4 separate regions of the Homo sapiens genome follow, and all the other regions are linked to region 1. The links come from fine-mapping of genetic effects on gene expression. A gene starts in region 1. Each other region holds a variant in brackets. All regions are shown on one strand. Distances are between the middles of the regions. Region 1 holds the start of HERC1 (HECT and RLD domain containing E3 ubiquitin protein ligase family member 1). Region 2 overlaps HERC1 (HECT and RLD domain containing E3 ubiquitin protein ligase family member 1). Region 3 overlaps HERC1 (HECT and RLD domain containing E3 ubiquitin protein ligase family member 1). Region 4 has its middle 3.0 kb from the start of MIR422A.

The links. PIP is the estimated chance that this variant, and not a neighbour inherited with it, causes the effect.
Region 2: its variant is the best candidate, but not a certain one, in a credible set for the expression of HERC1 in whole blood (TOPMed, PIP 0.62).
Region 3: its variant is the best candidate, but not a certain one, in a credible set for the expression of HERC1 in whole blood (TOPMed, PIP 0.65).
Region 4: its variant is the best candidate, but not a certain one, in a credible set for the expression of HERC1 in whole blood (TOPMed, PIP 0.78).

The regions. Positions count from the first base shown.
Region 1 is chr15:63,831,454-63,835,939 of GRCh38, reverse strand. It overlaps HERC1 (HECT and RLD domain containing E3 ubiquitin protein ligase family member 1), which reads left to right and starts at 1,992. Exons shown (of 78, transcript NM_003922.4): 1 at 1,992-2,113. RefSeq lists enhancers at 1,804-1,933, 1,107-1,970, 1,971-2,836 and a silencer at 2,174-2,603.
Region 2 is chr15:63,784,047-63,788,532 of GRCh38, reverse strand. All of the region lies in intron 1 of HERC1 (HECT and RLD domain containing E3 ubiquitin protein ligase family member 1), which reads left to right. Among named protein-coding and RNA genes, the nearest start is that of HERC1, 48 kb to the left of the region's middle. The variant A/T (reference allele first, on the strand shown) is at 2,315.
Region 3 is chr15:63,776,225-63,780,710 of GRCh38, reverse strand. The region is part of intron 1 of HERC1 (HECT and RLD domain containing E3 ubiquitin protein ligase family member 1); the gene reads left to right. Among named protein-coding and RNA genes, the nearest start is that of HERC1, 55 kb to the left of the region's middle. The variant G/T (reference allele first, on the strand shown) is at 2,531.
Region 4 is chr15:63,865,758-63,870,243 of GRCh38, reverse strand. No RefSeq gene overlaps it. Among named protein-coding and RNA genes, the nearest start is that of MIR422A, 3.0 kb to the left of the region's middle. The variant A/T (reference allele first, on the strand shown) is at 2,711.

The DNA.
Region 1 (4,486 bases):
CACACAGCTCTGAGGGTGGAAGCTAAGGAGATGGTAAAAGAGGGAGTCTCTTGATTGGTCTTTAAAGTAAGCAGTCCTTTTCTTGAAATAGAATGGGCAAAACCAGGCTGGGCACGGTGGCTCACCCCTGTAATCCCAGCACTTTGGGAGGCCAAGGCGGTCGGATCACAAGGTCAGGAGTTCGAGACCAGCCTGGCCAATATGGTGGAACCCCATCTCTACTAAAAATACAAAAATTAGCCAGGCATGGTGGCACACACCTGTAATCCCACCTACTTGGGAGGCTGAGGCAGGAGAATCGCTTAAACCTGGGAGGCGGAGGTTGCAGTGAGCCAAGATGGTGCCATTGCACTCTAGCCTGGGCAACAAGAGCAAAACTCCATCTCAAAAAAAAGAAAAAGAAAAAGTGGGCAAAACCAGTACAATTTTACAAATTCAAGAAAGACAGAATATCATATTTGTGAGTGACGTAGATGACATCAACAAGTTAAAAGGAGGAGCTTTTGCTTGTTGTTTTTGAGTATGCTTCACACACAATACCCAGATCATAAAGCACTAGCAACAATGACATCACTCCTCATGTAGCTACTCCCTTACATCATTTACCAGAAATACACATTTTATACATAGAAACTTAAAAGCTACACACCTAAGACCCATCATTTAATGAGTACTTAATATGTGCCGTATGTGAGCTTTACATATATTTTACTCCTCAGAGGAACCTTGTGATAACAAGAACTGGCATTATAAATTGACACATAAGGAACTGAGGTTCAGAGAGGTCAAGCAACTTGCCCAAGGTCACACACCTGGGGTAAGTGGGATTCCAGAATTCCCACCAGTGTCTGACAGTGAAGCACATGGCTCCTAACTCTTGGACTAAACTGCCTCATGTGACACACAAACATGTATCTAATTTAACCATGGGAAAGCACTCCCTCGTCTGTCTATACCGTAATTTCTTACATTAGTGACACATTCATGGCTTGTATGTTTGTGTGCTTCTCCTACGCCTCCAATTGGATTGCAAACTTCTGGAACGCAGAGGCCAACTCTATTTTTTGTCCCCAAGTCATCGGTCAGTTTAATTGATGCTCGTTAGAATATCTGGAAGGAAAGACACCATGAAGGTGGCTGGAAAGGAGTAAAACCAGGTACAGAAGGAGGAAGATGGAGATGGGGTATTCACTCAACAATTTAATGTCCACTTGGACCTATGTTAGGCGCTGGAGATATGGTGAGGACTGAGCCAGTCTGTGTCCTTCCCCTCATGGGGTTTCACGTGGAGGTCGAGGTCATGATCAAGGATGTAAGTCACCCAAAGGACACTACTGTGTTCCCAAGCAGAAAAGAAAACCGAGGAGCCAGGCCCTGGCATCTGCAGGGTTCTGGCAGTCCCATAAGGCGCAAAGACATGAACAAGGTGGAAGAGTAGGTCAAGTGAAACGCTTTTATGTGATTGAACTTAGCCGGCCGGAGGGCCGGGGCCGCTGCGATGAGAGATAAAGAGCGTGGGGCGCCGGGTGCGAGGCGGAGATAAAGGGGTGAGGCCCTGGCCCTGCCGCCGGCCGTAACACGTGTCCCTTCGCCTGGCGGCGGGGTCTTCCCTGCCCACCACGAGGAAAAGGGGGCGCACTGCATGGCCCCCCACTCCTCACCACCCTTTGTGAAACGCCCCCAATTGTGCTTCATCTGTGGAGTCAGGTCCCCGCAGGCGGTCGGGGCTGCCCGGATTCCGCGACGGCTGAAGGGTGAGGGCCGCGCGGTAGCAAAGTGTCCCCAGCACCTAGCTTGGCTCCCCTCGCTCCCAAATCCCTTTCCCCTTTTCGCTCAACCCCCAACTCCACCTCAGCCGCCTTCCTCTCGGTTCCCCTTTCACCTCCCGCGCTGGGCCTGTTGGGCGGGGCGAGGGCTCCCGGCTGCGCGAGAGTTCCGCCCAAATCTCGTGAGACTCGCCTGACGCCGCCGCTGCTGCCGCCGCCTCTTACGTCTTTCCCTTTGACAAGTCGCTGCTGCTGCAGCAAAAATAAAGGACGCGACCGCCGCAGCCTCTGCGGAGCCGGGCTCGGGTCGCCGGAGCCGCGCCCCACCCCGCCAGCTCCAGAGCCACGTACGGTAACGCATCATCTACCGTCCTCCTGGTCCTGTGTGTGTGTGTGTGTGTGTGTGTGTGTGTGTGTGTGCGCGCGCGCGTGTGTGCTTTGCCGGCCGCGCAGGGCCGGCCGGGGCCGTTTCGGGACTGCAGCCGAGCGGGGCTGCTGGGGTCCCGGGTGGGCGGCAGGCGAGCTGGGGGAGCCCTCCTGGCGCGCCGCGGATCCCCCGGGTCCCCGGCTCTAGAGGCCTCCTGCCGCCCGGGCGCCTCGGAGCAGCGTAGAAGCCGAGGCGCCCGCGGAGAGGGCCGAGAGACCCGCCCCTCCAGCGGCTTACAACGTCTGTGCCCCGGCCCCGCTGTGGTCGCGTCTCTTTCTGCTTCATTCCTTTATCTGCTGACCAGCTCCTCTGCCCCGGCTGGGGCTCGGTCCGCGGGCGGCGGCCGACTCCCTCTCAGGGTCCGGGGAGTGCCGCGACCCCGGTGTCCCCAGGCGCCGGCCGCCTTTAGCGGGGTGGAGGCTGGGACGACGTGTCTTCCTCCTCTCCTCTGCCTTTGGGTGAGGGCAGCTCATCATCTGCTAAACCTTTCTCCAAATCTCCCGCCCCAATAAAACAACAAATTATAAAGCCTTTGCAACCGGGAGGCGAGGCGGGGCGCATTGTTTAGTCTTAAGCGTGAGATGAGGATGATGATGGTGATGACAGGAGCTACCCCGGGGAACATGGTGAAATCTGTTCTGTGATGGGTGGCAGGTTACTGGGAGACACGAGGAGGACAGGAGCTTGTACCACCTCTCCCAGGAGGTTATGTAAAAGACATGTTATCTTAGAGAGCTGTGAAACACAGGGACAGATTTGTCTTAGTTTAAGAAATGTCTATAATACTTAGAATATAGAGATAATTAAATGATGGGAATAACAAATCTGAACAAACTAACCCATCTTTGTAATTCCATCTCCAGAGGTGGCATTTCATGGTTAACATTTTATTGTATTTCCTAACAGACACATTTTTTTTTATCCTTGCTTGGGACTTCCTCATTCTATATTTGTTCCAAAAATGATTTATTTTATTTGAATCAGTTCTCTGGCCTGCTTGATTAAAACTGGCTGCTAGTTCATTATCACTGGCTGAACTCTGCCATCACTATCTTTTTCACTGGGCCCTTTTCCAAAATGATTGTTAGCTAAGTGGTTTGAAAAATCAAACGTTAAAACATTGTCTGTTTGGGTCTAGTACCTATGTATATATTATATTTTTACAATTCTGTTAGTGGTGGTTGCTCAAAATGGGGCAGTATTTGTAGAAGGGAAAGAAACTATGATTATTCATAGTGGGAAGAAACCTATTTACCTCAGGTTTTATGAAATTGATTTCTACTGGATATTTTTAGACCAAAATTGTTCTGTGACATTGTTTCATAGTGCCTGTTGTGATTAGTGTGGGATGAGTATGTCTCTTTGATATATGTGTTTCCATAGCCTGCGTTTATACAAGCAAAATTGAATGTCCTAGGTGCCTGTCTTATGCATAAATGTACGTATATATGTATAGAGACACACACACACACACACGTATTCTGCACCTATACACATTTATATATCTTGGAAGTGAGTTAAGATGTATTGCTATATTATTTGAGAAAAGATAGCATTAGGAAGGGCAAAGAACAGTCATAATATTTCCCCCAAATCACATGACAAGGTTGTATGGCAGAATGAGATATCTAGGGAGGTTGGAAATCTGGAGCCTTTTAAAAATAGGATAGATTGTCATCTGGGGTTGTTGTTATTGGAATGGATTAAATGGCCTATTAAGGCCTCTTGTAATTCTAAACTTTTATGAATTTTGCGTTCCCTAAGGTTCTTATCATTTTGCTTCTTAAATTTCCAGTCATGCTGTTTGCATGTGACACATCCATTCATTTGCTGGTCATGTATTCCATTTCCAATGCAGGCACCCTGATGTTGCATGGAAGAGAAAGCAAATGTAAATGCGTCACTTAATCTGCTTATTAATATAAACATCTCTTGAAAATCTCAATTTAAAGAAATTTTGGAGAATGTGTTGGTGATTGGACTGGATTGGGTTAGTAGAGGGTGCAAATAATAAATAGTAATAACAATTCCAACGTTCCAAGCATGTTTTCCCCCAAAAAAGTCATACTGAATACTCCCTAATATTTGAAATAGAAAAAAAAGGGGGCTGGGTATATTGAAGGAGCTGACCTTTTAAAATTTTTAAAATTCAGATTTTCAGATCTTAAAATGATGATAATGATGACATCGTGGCTTGGAGAGTGAGAAGGTTGTGTTAGGATAAAAAGAAACTTGTGAAACAAAACTTGAATGTTATAGTTGGATAACTATATAATAGCAAGTAACAAACTTA
Region 2 (4,486 bases), 47 kb after region 1:
TTGTTACTTTATTGACTGCTTAAAAAGAACTGAGACTCTTTGCTCTATGCCCTAAAACATTTAAAGTAGCTTAGGAATTGTCTGTTGAAGTCATGATAGAATTCTTCCTTAAAACAATCAGGGCTTTATTTTGTTGTGATTATAGTTTCTTTAAATCTCATTACTGATTTATTTCGGTAGTATCCCAACTATATTATCCCAATTCTCCAATTTACAGTAAATAACTGTTAAATTGGTTTTTTTGAAATGCATCCTTCATTGAGGGCATATAGGTATCAGATGCTGTGTTAGGTGCAGATAACACTTTTGTTCCCCAAATCATCAGTCTGACTTGTACTGGATTATAGAATAGAAACCCAAATTCATTTGTTTGTTAACTGTCTTTTTCACATTCTGTACTGCTTTTCATTTTCCTACAATTTTATACAAATGTCTTTATGTATTGTAGCTATTCTGATCTACTTCCTATTCTTTAAATGCACTTGAACTTTCTTTCCTTTGAGTTCAATTTGATGAAACTGGCTTGTAAGGTTTTTTGTTTTGTTTTGTCTTTTTTTTTTTTTTTTTTTTTTGAGACAGGGTCTCACCCTGTCGCCAAGACTGGAGTACAGTGGCACAATCTTGGCTCACTGCAGCCTTGACCTTCTGGACTCAGGCGGCCTCCCCAGTATGCCTCCCCAGCTGGGACCACAGGCATACACCACCACGCCCGGTTAATTTTTTGTATTATTTGTAGAGTCGGGGTTTTGCCATATTGTCCAGGTTAGTAAGTTTTTTAAAAAGAGATGGAGTCTTGCTGTATTATCCAGGAGTGATCATAGTGCACTACAGCCTTGAAATCCTGGCCTCAAGTGATCCTCCTGCCTTAGCCTCCCAAGTAGCTAGGACTGTAGATGTGTGCCACCGAGTCTGGCTCTATAATAGTTTGACCCATCAAAGTCATTCTTGATGTAGCGAACTTTTTTTGAGTATTTGTTGCCCACCATTGGTTCTCTCTTCTTTCAGTAACATACCCTCAGTTCATTTTGGGGAAGCATTATCTGCCAGATATATTTTTTTAATTTAAATAATTTATTGGTCAGCCGTGGCGGCTCATGCCTGAAATTCCAGCACTTTGGGAGGCTGAGGCAGGTGGATCACCTGAGGTCAGGCGTTTGAGACCAGCCTAGCCAACATTGTGAAACCCTGCCTCTACTAAAAATACAAAAATTAGCTGGGTGTGGTGGTGCATGCCTGTAGTCCCACCTACTCGGGAGGCTGAGGCAGGAGAATTGCTTGAATCCTGGAGGCGGAGGTTGCAGTGAACGGAGATTGCACCACTGCACTCCATCCTTGGTGACGGAGTGAGACTCCATCTCAAAAATAATAATATGATAATAATAATTTATTGAGACTGGGGATGGTGGCTCATGCCTGTAATCCCAGCACTTTGTGAGGCTGAGGCAGGCAGATCACTTGAGGTCAGGACTTCAAGACCAGCCTGGCCAACATGGTGAAACTCCATCTCTACTAAAAATGCAAAAATTAGCTGGGCATGGTGAGACCATGCCATTGCACTACCGACTGGGCAACAAGAGTGAAACTCCGTCTCAAAAAATAAAAAAAAAAAAAATAATAATTTATTGAGTTGAAGTTCACATCACGTACAATTAACCATCTTAAAGTGAGCGATTTAGTGGCATTTAGTACTTTCACAGTATTGTGCAACTACCGTCTCTAGTTCCAAAACATTTTCATAATTCCAAAGTAAAATCTTACCAGTTTCTCCATTTTCCCTTCCTCTCCAGCCTCTGGCAACTACTAATCTACTTTCTATCTCTAAGCATTTGGCCATCCTGTACTGTACATTTCTTATAAATAGAATCATACATTATATAGCCTTTTATATCTGGCATCTTTCAATTGGCAGAATGTTTACAAGGCTCAAATTATAGCATGTATCAGTATTTCATTCCTATTTATGGCTGAATAATATTCCACTGTGTAGATAATATGACATTTTGTTTATTCATTCATATCTTGATGGTCATTTGTGTTGTTTCCACTTTTTGGCTATTACGAGTAATGCTCCAGTGAATGTTTGTGTACAAGTTTTCATATGAACATGTGTTTTCAGTTCACTTGGGTATAGATCTAGGAGTCGAATTGTTGGGCCATAAGGAAACTCTGTTTTTAACTTTTTGAGATACCACCAGCAAACTGCTCTTCACAGCTGTCTTTCGATTCTTCTTCTTCTTCTTTTTTTTTTTTTTTTTTAATAGAAACATGATCTTGCTGTGTTGTCTAGCCTGGCGTGTAGTGGCTATTCTCAGGC[A/T]CAATCATAGCATACTACAGCCTCGAACTCCTGGCCTCCAGCAGTCCTCCCACTTTAACCTGCTAAGTAGCTGGGACTACAGGCACACTGCAGTGCATCTAGCTTGTCTTTCCATTCTTATTTATAATATTGAGTACCTTATGTTTTGTCTTTTTTTTCTTAATTTTGTTAGCTGATTGTTTTCATTTTTTTCCACTAAAGAATTATCTCTTGGGTTGGGCATGGTGGCTCACACCTGTAATCCCAGCACTTTGGGAGGCCCAAGTGGGAAGATTGCCTGAGTCCAGGAGTTTGAGACCAGCCTGGACAACACGGTGAGACCTCTGTCTCTAAAAAAGAAAAAGAAGAATAATCTCTCTGAGATATCAATCCTGTTGTTTTTGAATTTTTCTCATTTACCAATTTCCCTTCCCTTCCCCTTCCCCTTTTCCTTCCTTCTTTCCTTCTTTATTTAGAGACAGGGTCTCTGTTGACCAGGCTGCAGTGTAGTAGCATGATCTTGACTCACTGCAGCCTTGACCTCCTGAGCGCAAGGGATCATCCCACCTCATCCTGCTGAGTAGCTGGGACCACATCATGCGCCACCATTCCTGGCTAATTTTTTGTATTTTTTGTAGAGATGGGGTTTCTCCATGTTGTGCAGGCTGGTCTTGAACTCCTGAGCTCAAGTGATCCGCCCACCTTGGCCTCCCAAAGCCTTGGGATTACAGGTGTTAGCCAGCGTGCCCAGCCTAATATTCTTAAAGTTTATTTTGTTTTTCTAATTTTGAATTGAATTATTAATATATTTAATTTTTTTAAGAGACTTTGTCTCACCTTATTGCCCAGGCTGGAGTGCAGTGGTGCACTTATAGCTCACAGCTTTGAACTTCTGAGCTCAAGCGATCCTCCCACCCAAGCCTAAGTTGCTGGGACCACAGTCGTGTACCACCATGCCCAGATAATTTTTAAACATTTTGTCAAGGTAATGTCTTGCTATGTTGCTCAGGCTGGTCTTGAACTCCTGGCCTAAAGCTTCCTCCCACCTTGGCCTCTTAAAATGTTGGGATTATAGGAGTGAGCCACCACACCTGGCTTTCAGTTAATTCTTACTTAGAAATGGAGCATTTGAGTCTTTATATATTTATTTGAGTCAACTTTGACTACATTCCCTTGATTTTGATATATGTTTCTTTTATATAACTTTCTAGATAATTTGTAACTCCTTTCCCCTTCCTCTCTTTGTCTGAGAAACTTAGTTTCCAAAAATTTAGGTTTTGCCTTGTTTTGGATTTCTTTAAAAATGCTTTTTGAAAATTTGCACTGATAGGCCAGGGGCAGAGGCTCACGCCTGTAATCCCAGCACTTTGGGAGGCCGAGGTGGGCTGATCACCTGAGGTCAGGAAAGCGAGCCCATCCTGGCCAACACAGTGAAACCCCAACTGTACTGAAAATACAAAAAAAATTAGCTGGATGCGGTGGCAGCCACCTATAGTCCCAGTTACTTGGGAGGCTGAGGCAGGAGAGTCGCTTGAACCTGGGAGGCGGAGGTTGCAGTGAGCCGAGATTGCGCCACTGCACTCCAGCCTGGGTGACAGAGTGAGACTCTGTCTCAAAAAGGAAAAAAAAAAAAATTTGCATGATAATACATGCATATATAAGAAATTCAAATTTATGCAGTGAAGAGCAAATATCTTTCCTACCCCAGCTCCCAGTAACCCAATTCTCCTTCTCCCAGAGGCAACTAGTGTTCCTAGGTTTTAAAAAAATGTTTTCAGCATTTATTATTAAACCCTTTTTAATATAGTTATGTTACTGTATATGAACTATTACAGTATACACAAATACTTTACATATTTTTCTTTTTTAACAGTGTATCTTGGAGATTGCTCCATTTTAGTTGTTTTGTGAATTCTTTTTGGTTTCACTACTTTCTGGCTAGAACTGTGGTCTATAATTATGTGTATATTTTTGAATTATTTGTTAGATAATAGTCAATTTGAAAATATTTTCCACTGGTACTTAAAAAGAACATATTTTAGGATATGGATAATATTTTAGATTAGATTTATCATCTTGGATTACATAGATGACTTCAGGACATCCATGAAACCTTTGGAAATTTGCTCATTTTTATGAGTATGAGCATGAGTTTTATTCTTTTTTTTTTTTTTTGAGATAGAGTCTTCCTGT
Region 3 (4,486 bases), 55 kb after region 1:
TCATTGTGTTGCCCAGGCTGGAGTGCAGTGGCACGATCTTGGCTCACCGTAACCTCCGCCTCCCGGGTTCACACCATTCTCCTGCCTCAGCCTCCCGAGTAGCTGGGACTACAGGTGCCCACCACCACGCCCAGCTAATTTTTTTGTATTTTTAGTAGAAATGGGGTTTCACCGTGTTAGCCAGGATGGTCTCAATCTCCTGACCTCGTGATCCGCCCACCTCGGCCTCCCAAAGTACTGGGATTACAGGTATGAGCCACCGCGCCCGGCCTTCTGTTTTACCTTTTTAATACTTGCTTGTTTTCTTTCTTTATTTCCTGTTGTTAGATGGCCTCTGTTTCTTTGATTCATTTCCTGTTCTGTCTTTGTATAATTTTGGAAAATATATGGATTTACCCAGATGACTAGACAGCAGTAATTAACCAGAAATGGAAATGAGGAAATTCCATTCATAGTAATCACAAAATCAAAAATACTTAAGAATCAACAGAAAAGCACAGGATTTATATGAAGAAAATCTAAAATAGGATAGGAGCAAATAGAAATGCATACTTTGTCCTTGGATGAACAAATTTCATAAAAATGTCTATTTTCTGAAAGTACATAAATCTAATGCAATTCAGATTGGAACCTCAATAGTGTGTTGGAAGGGATGGCATATAATTGAATAAAATAATCTTTTTTTTTTTTTTTTTTTTGAGATGGAGTCTCCCTCTGTCGCCAGGCTGGAGTGCAGTCTTGTGATCTCGGCTCACTGCAACCTCCACCTCCCGGGTTCGAGCGATTCTCCTGCCTCTGCCTCCCAAGTAGCTGGGACTACAGGCGCGCACCACCACTACTGGCTAATTTTTGTATTTTTATTAAAGACGGGGTTTCACCATGTTGGCAAGGATGGTCTCCATCTCTTGACCTCGTGATCCTCCCACCTCGACCTCCAAAAGTGCTGGGATTACAGGCGTGAGCCACCGTGCCTGGCCTGAATAATATCATCTTAAACTTTTGGGACTTGCCTTACCAGTCATCAGAACATTTATACATTTATAAGCCTATTGTAATCAAGTCACTGTTGTAAGAATAGACAAGTGGACCAGAATAGAGAATCCAGAAATAGATCCTGTTAGTGGAAAAGTGAGTTATTTTGTTGTTTAGATCTTCTGTTTTCTTATTTTTGTTCACTTGATCCATCTTGTACTAAGAGTGGTATATTCATGTCTCACGTTATTAGTGTTTCTATTTATGTTTCCTTGCATCTCCTGTAGTTTTTGCTTTATAAAAGCTGTGGCTGTGCTATTTTGTTTTAAAATAATGCCTGGCTAATTCTTTTGCTTTTTAAAGTAATTTCATCTCTTTGCTTGGAGGTCTTTAGGATTTTATCTTTGTCTTTGAAATATAATAGTTTTTCTAGGCTATTTCTTGGAGTTGATTGTCTGGGTTAATTTTCTCAAGTACCTTGTATATTGATTCAGATATTTTTTCTATTTTAGAAAGTTTTCTTGCATTGTAGCTATAAAACCAGCTCTGTTTTTGTTTGTTTTGTATTTTTCTTCCTCACGTAATCCAATAATATGAATATTATTCTTTTTTCTTATCTTTTTCTAATTATTTCTCTCACCCTTTTCATTTTTCTTTATGTCATTGAGTCTACTCTTCCTTGAACACTTTTATAATTCATTCTTCATTGCTGAGATAATTTTGCCTTTTTCTTCATATTTCTTTCCTGAGTTCAATTACCTCTTTCCCTTTCTTTCTTCCTTTCCTTTTCTTCTTTTTCTTTCTTTTTGTCTATTTCTGCTTTCAGTTTTTGAATTTTTGATTCAGGATTTTTCATATCATCATATGTTTCAGTTTATTTAATTTTGTTTGGATTGTTAACTTACACTTTGCTTTGTCGTCATCAGGGAATTTCCCTCAATTGATAAATGTAAAATTTAATTTTGTTTTGTTTTCTGCAATAGCTCTGTATGCACTTGAGTTTTCTCATGTTCGTTTTTGTGGTATCGAGTATTTTATAATATTCTTAATTTAATTGCATTCTCTTCAGTCAATATAGCAAAGTCCAAATACAATAGCAGAAATTTTGTTTGTTTTACTTGAGGAAAGGGTTGTTCTGTCTTCAATTTTATGGGTCTATTTTGCCTTGCAGGACACTAAATATTTCCCCTTTTTCTTCTTTTACCCTTCACCACTCAGTTGTTAAAGCATGCTTCTCTCTTCCTTTTTGCTTTTTCTTTCCTCTGCGTTTCAACAAATGCTTATTTAACACTTGTCTTTTTAAATTGCACCTGCTGTCTTAAACCGTGCCTTCTGCTTTAAATTAAATGTACTTTAAAATCTCTTCCCTGTAGTCTGTGCTCTGATCTGCCCAGATACTTTTCCAGTGTTTTCAGATACGGTGTGGATTTAATCTTTCTGGGAGTCACTCCAAATCATTTTTAGCCCCCTTCACTAGCCTTTCTCCTCTGTCTTTTCTGCAGTTTTTCTTAGTCTGCCTTTGCTTGCCACAAAGCCTTATGGCTGGATGGAGGTGAAA[G/T]CATGTACCCTGGATTGGTTGACTTTTTCTCTTTTTTATTTACAATTATTTGCAATTTTGGCATTCTGTATCTTCAAGTTATGCTACAGGTGTGGTTTGGTATAGAATTTAATTTTTCCTTCTTGTTTTTCTTAAATTTTGGGCAGATAGCTATGCAGCTGCCATTGTCTTCAACTATGTAGAAGTCCTGGATTACTTAATAAATGGTGTTGGTATAACTAGCCTTCTACCTGGAAACAATAAAATTGGACTCAGCTTGTCCTATATAGAGTGTATTAAACTTCCAGATGAATGTAGAATTTATTTTAATTCCAGATGGACTAAAGACTCAGGTTTTTAAAAAAAATCTCTCAAGAATATCAAGGTGGTTTTGTATAGGTGATTACCTATATAATCTAGAATTCATGTGGAATCTGGGTGTGAGAGTCGGGCAGGGATACTCTTTTGACCAAGAATGGAAAACAGAAGCTATAAAATAAAAGATGTGTGTGTATGTAAAAGATAGATTTAGAAGAAATATTTGCAATGTTGAGGACAGACTGTGATAAAATACAAAAAACTTTTACAAGTTGACAAGATAACAAAATAGGAGAATGCATGAATAAATATTTCCCAGAAGAGCATATCCAGATGACCAACAAACATAAGATGTTCAGATTTATTAGTAATCAGAGAAATACAAATTAGAGTAACAACGTATCCCTGTACAGCTATCAAACTGGCCAAATTTAAAACAGCAAAATTACATATGGCTTATGTGGGAAGGGATGGAGGTAAATAAGGCACTTTTATGTCCTCTGCACAATGCTGGTGTTTAATACCAAATGAAGTCAGGGTGGGATGGAGGATCATGATTTTCCCCCCTCTTAAGTGCATACTTTACAAGTATCTTAGGAAGATGAATTAAGCATAGTAATCATAAACTTGTGAAGGCAAGTGTCATCAGATTTTATATTTAGAATTTACCAGGGCATAATGAGATATAAGAAACTCCTTTTAATTACTGTAGTCTGGGATCTTTATCATTGGAGTGCTTTCTTGAAGATCTGCCTGTGTCATGAAAATTAAATTCCCTTCAGTGATTGAGGTTTCTCTCTATTACCAGCTATTATAAGTGACATTCTGAGGACTTGCTTGAGAGACACCTTCCCTGCAATATTTTGTAATTAAAAATTTTGTGTGTATATAAAAAATATATGTCAATGCATCTTATTTCTGATGCATTTCAAAATAAACTACAGATGTCTGTTTACTTCCCTCAAATATACTTCAGCTTGCATATCATTATTCAGTATTTGTTGAGGCAAAATTTACATGCAGTGAAATGTAAAAATCTCAAGTGCACTTTCACTGAGTTTTTTTATTTTTATTTTCTTATGTAGAGACGAGATCTCACTGTGTTGTCCAGGCGGGTCTCAAACTCCTGAGCTCAAGCAGTCCTCCTGCCTTGGCGTCCCTGAATGTTAGGATTATGGGTGTGAGCCACCATGCCCAGCCCACTAGGTTTTAACAAATGCGCAACCTGTGTATTCCACACCAGTATTGAGACATAGAATATTATCTCAAGAAGTGTCCTCATGCTCCTCACAGTCAGTTCATGCTGTCACCCTCTAGAGGCAACCACTATTTTGATTGAAGTATTTTTATGGTCTTATGTTTTCTTTTGGATAAATCTTTAGAAGAGGAATTGTTGGGTCATAGGGTTAGATATATGTTTCGTTTTATGAGAAACTGCCAGCCACCTTTCCAAAGTGGGTGTTCCATTCTACAATTATGAGTCCCAAAGTTTTTGGCTCAGGGAACTAGAAGGATGGAGTTACCATTTATTGAGAGAAAGAAGTCTACAGGAGGGACAGGTTTGGGTGGGGTGGTGGTACTGGTAGAATAGGAGCTCAGTTTTGGATATGTTAATTTTGAGATATCCAACCATAACCAAAACTGTTAGATAGCCATGTG
Region 4 (4,486 bases), 34 kb before region 1:
AGACTTGGTATTTCCACGGTGAGTCATAATTGTTCGTTGACATACCTCATTGCCTAATGCCATTTATAGCCCCAAAAGATAACATACATCACATGAGGATTTTTTAAGCTCACTTCTTTAAACAGATTCTATATTGTACTGTTTGCTAGGTCATTCATCCATCCAGTATTCTCTCTGCTTCCTCATTTCTCCTGTGTGCTGGAGACTGTGCTCTCACCTTCACACCCCTCATTTTATTTAATCCTCACAACCATCTCAGCGAGGCAAGAATTATTATCCCCTTTTCAAAAATGAGAAAAATATGACTCAGAGAGGTTAAGTGATGTGCCCAGGGCCACACAGTAAGCGACTGGAATTAGGATTTCAACTTAGGGCACTGAACTTTTCATCATAGCAAATTGGCCTCCTCTCTCCTCCTAAGCTCCCCACTTCTCATAGCATTCAAGTCCTCCTCACTATTATGTGTGTTTGTGTGTGTGTGTGTGTGTGTGTTTTAGAGACAAGGTCTTGCTCTGTCATCCAGGCTGGAGTGCAGTGGTGAGATTATACCTCACTGCAGCCTCAAACTCCTGGGTTCAAATCACCCTCCCACACCAGCCTCTCAAGTAGCTGGGACTATAGGCACATACCACCACACCTGGATAATTAAAAAAAAATTTTTTAAAGATGGGGTCTTGCTGTGTTGCCCAGGCTGGTCTCAAACTCCTGGCCTGAGGGAATCCTCCCACCTCAGCCTCCTGAGTACCTCCACATTATTTTGAAGCAGAGAACACTGGGGATAATTATGAGTTTTTTGTTTGTTTGTTTGTTTTTGTTTGATGAGAAGAATATTGTCTAGGTTTATTTTATTTTTATTCTTGATGAGAAGAATATTGTCTAGGTTGATTTTGTATTATTATTCTTGATGAGAAGAATATCGTCTAGGTTGATTTTTTTTTCATGAGCTTATTTATTCATTCAATACATCTCAATGAGAACTGGCTAAACAGGGACACTTGGTGTTAGCCCAGAGACCTAGAGGTCATGGCCACTTATTACATGCCGGGACCCATGGTCATTCCATAACCACCCTGCTCCCACCCTGAAAAAGAGTCACAAACAATTAGGACCCAGACTGGTGGGTGGTCTTGTAGGAGAGGGTCTTGTAGGAGAGGGTCCAAAGAAGTGAGGACAAAACCCTACCAATTAGAAGTCAAGTCTGAACTCCAGACAGGAAAAAAGAAAAAAAACCCATCAACTCAAAAAACCCTCTGTTCCCGTTAAGAGCATAAGCTTTAGATTACAAAGTCTTACATAGTGGGAGATATCCTTGGGAAGGAGGTGTTGTGAGGTGGAGAAATAGAGGCACTGATGTTGGCACCCAGAAAATCTTGGGCCATCTCTCAGGCAAGTGGCTTGATCTCTCTGGCCTATGTTTCTTTATCTGCAAAACAGAAAGATGCTTTCTGTTTCTCAGGGTGAGGGGAGTAAATGAGCTAACATGTGCAAAGCCCTCCATTCCTGAAATGTGGCAGCTACTTTAAAATTGTTATTTCAATGCCATGAGTTATGTGTGGAGCAGTTGGTCCAGAATAGAGGGGGAACAAAATTTGGATCAAAGAACAGCCCCTGAGGGATTAAGCATTCATATAAGATAGACATGAATCATTGCAAAGGCACACCCTTTTTCCCAATGTGTCAATGAGACTTCTTCATCCAATGAGTTAGTCTAACCGGAGGTGAGGTGGGCTCTAATTCAAGACCTATAATAGACCAGGCATGTGCCATTGATAGATGCTAATGATGATTGCAAACAAAGGGGGGTGGCTGCATAAATGTAGCTTCCTCTACATGCTCTGGAGGAATGGGAACATCTATCTGAGACCTCTGGTTGGGGACTATAGGCTTAAGAAGGCCAATATAATAGGGAGGACAGCATGGTAGCGAGAAAGAAGGTGGACTTAAAGCCAGAAGAGCCAGGCTCAAGTCCCAGCTCTACTTTCCAACAAGCTTTGAGACCCTGGGCCAGCCACCAAGTGTCCTGTCTGGTTTATGAGAACAGTTGTCTTAGTATCTGCCTCACCTTGGTCATAAAACTGTTGTCAGAAAGACAAAGTAGGTCCCTCAAAAAATTAAACATAAAATTACTAGAAGATCCAGCAATTCCACTTCTAGGTATACAAAAAATTGAGGCTGGGCTCAGTGGCTCACACTTGCAATCCTAGAACTTTGGGAGGCTAAAGAGGGAGGACTGCTTGAGGCAGGAGTTCAAGACCAGCCTGGGCAACATAGTGAGACCCCCCCTTCTCTACAAAAAAAAAATTAAATTAGCTGGGCATGGTGGCATGCACCTGTGGTCCTGGCTACTAAGGGGGCTGACGTGGGAGGATGGCTTGAGCCTGGAAGGTTGAGGCTGCAGTGAGCTGTGATCACACCACGCACTCCAGCCTGACTGATAAAGTAAGATCCTGTCTCAATGAATGAATGAATGAATTGAAAGCAGGGACTTCAACAGATATTTTTACCCTCATGTTCATAGCAGCGTTATTCACAAGAGCCAAACAGTGGAAACAACCCAAGCATCCATTAATGGATGAATGGATAAGCAAAGTATGATACATACACAACGGAATACCATTTAGCCTGAAGAAGGAATGTAATTCTGATACATGCTTCAACATGATGATCCTTGAAAACACTATGTTAAGTGAAAGAAGCCAGACACAAAAGG[A/T]GGACAAATGTATGATTCCAGGTAGATGAGGTTCGTAGAGGAGTCAAACTCATAGAGAAAGAAAGTAGAGTAGTCATTATCAGGAGCTGGAGGAGGAAGCAATGGGGAGTTATTGTTTAATGGGTACAGAGTTTCAGTTTAAGGTGGTGAAAAAGTTTTAAGATGGATGGTGGTGATGCCTACACAACATGAATATACTTAATGCCAAAGAATTGTACAGTCAAAAATTGTTAAAATGCCCAACTACTCTGGAGGCTAAGGCAGGAAGACCGCTTGAATCCAGGAGTTCAAGGCTGAAGTGAGCTATGATTGTGCCACTGCACTCCAGCCTGGGTGACAGAGTGAGACCCTGTTTCAAAGAAAAAATAAAAAGTAAAAAAGATAAATTTTATATTATGTATATTTTAACACAATAAAAATTACCTTTTTTAAAAAAAGAAAGATATAGGCCAGGCGCGGTGGCTCACGCCTGTAATCCCAACACTGTGGGAAGCTGAGGCGGGCAGATCACGAGGTCAGGAGATTGAGACAATCCTGGCTAACACGGTGAAACCCCGTCTCTACTAAAAATACAAAAAAAAAAAAAAAGGAAAAAAAAATTAGCCCGGCATGGTGGCGGGTGCCTGTACTCAGGAGGCTGAGGCGGGAGAATGGCGTGAACCCGTGAGGCGGAGGTTGCAGTGAGCTGAGATCGCGCCACTGCATTCCAGCATGGGAGACAGAGCGAGACTCCATCTCAAACAAAAACAAAACCAAAAAAAAAAAAAAAAAAAAAAAAAGATATACTGTAGAGGAGAGTCATTTGCAATCTGTACAGCAACATGAAATAATTAGCTGTGGTAGAGGGGTTAGGATGCAATAGTTACATTATTATAACTACCCTCTACCACAGCTAATTACTATTGCTCTACAAGATTTCATATTGCTTTACAGGTTCTCTTAGAGCAATTGTCAAAATTGAGACCCTCATCCAGGACTTCTACAAACTGTTTTCCAATCTGAAAAATAGCAGGAAGGAGTAGATTTTTTTTTTTTTTAAGACACTGTAAGAGCTGAACGTGGTTTCCCTGGAAAGTGGGAAACGGGAGTGGTAGGGGCTGATGTTTTTCCTAACAGGTTTGTAGAACTGGAATCTTAAAAAAAAAAAAATGTTCCTGATTCATTATTTTCTAATGCTCTTTATTTATATCTGCTCTGATCATTGACTTCTATCCCACAATAAAGTTGAACCAGCCAGTGAAAACCATGGTTGTTATAGCTAGGAAGAGGGTGCTGAAGAACACTGAGCACCCTGTGTTCCTCCTTTCTGCTGGGCACGCAGTGATGGGGAGGGCCCTTACCCAGGACTGCTCAGTGTGTCCCCATCGGTAAAAGGAGCCATTGGCCTTCCTGTTTATCAGCCTCTCAAGCGTCTGCATCAGAGGCCTGGGTTCTCCAGAGCTTGGTTACCCCAGAGTGAGCTTTGCAGGTGGAGTTTGACAACTTCTGAGATGAAGATCAGACTCAGGGTCTAGGAGACATGGGCAAGGTTCTTAACCTGGAGCAGCCCAGAGGTCTGGGCCCCTTTAATGACTGTACACCACTTAGGGTGAAAATTAAATTGTAAACTGTGTGTATATGTGTTAATATATACCAACAAATAAAACTTAACTTGGGCAGTAAGTTGGCACGATTCCTATAAACAACACTTTATAGGAAATAATTAAATAAGCAAATTAATATGCCCATTCATGTTTTTTAACAGATTTACTGAGCTATAATTCACATACCATACAA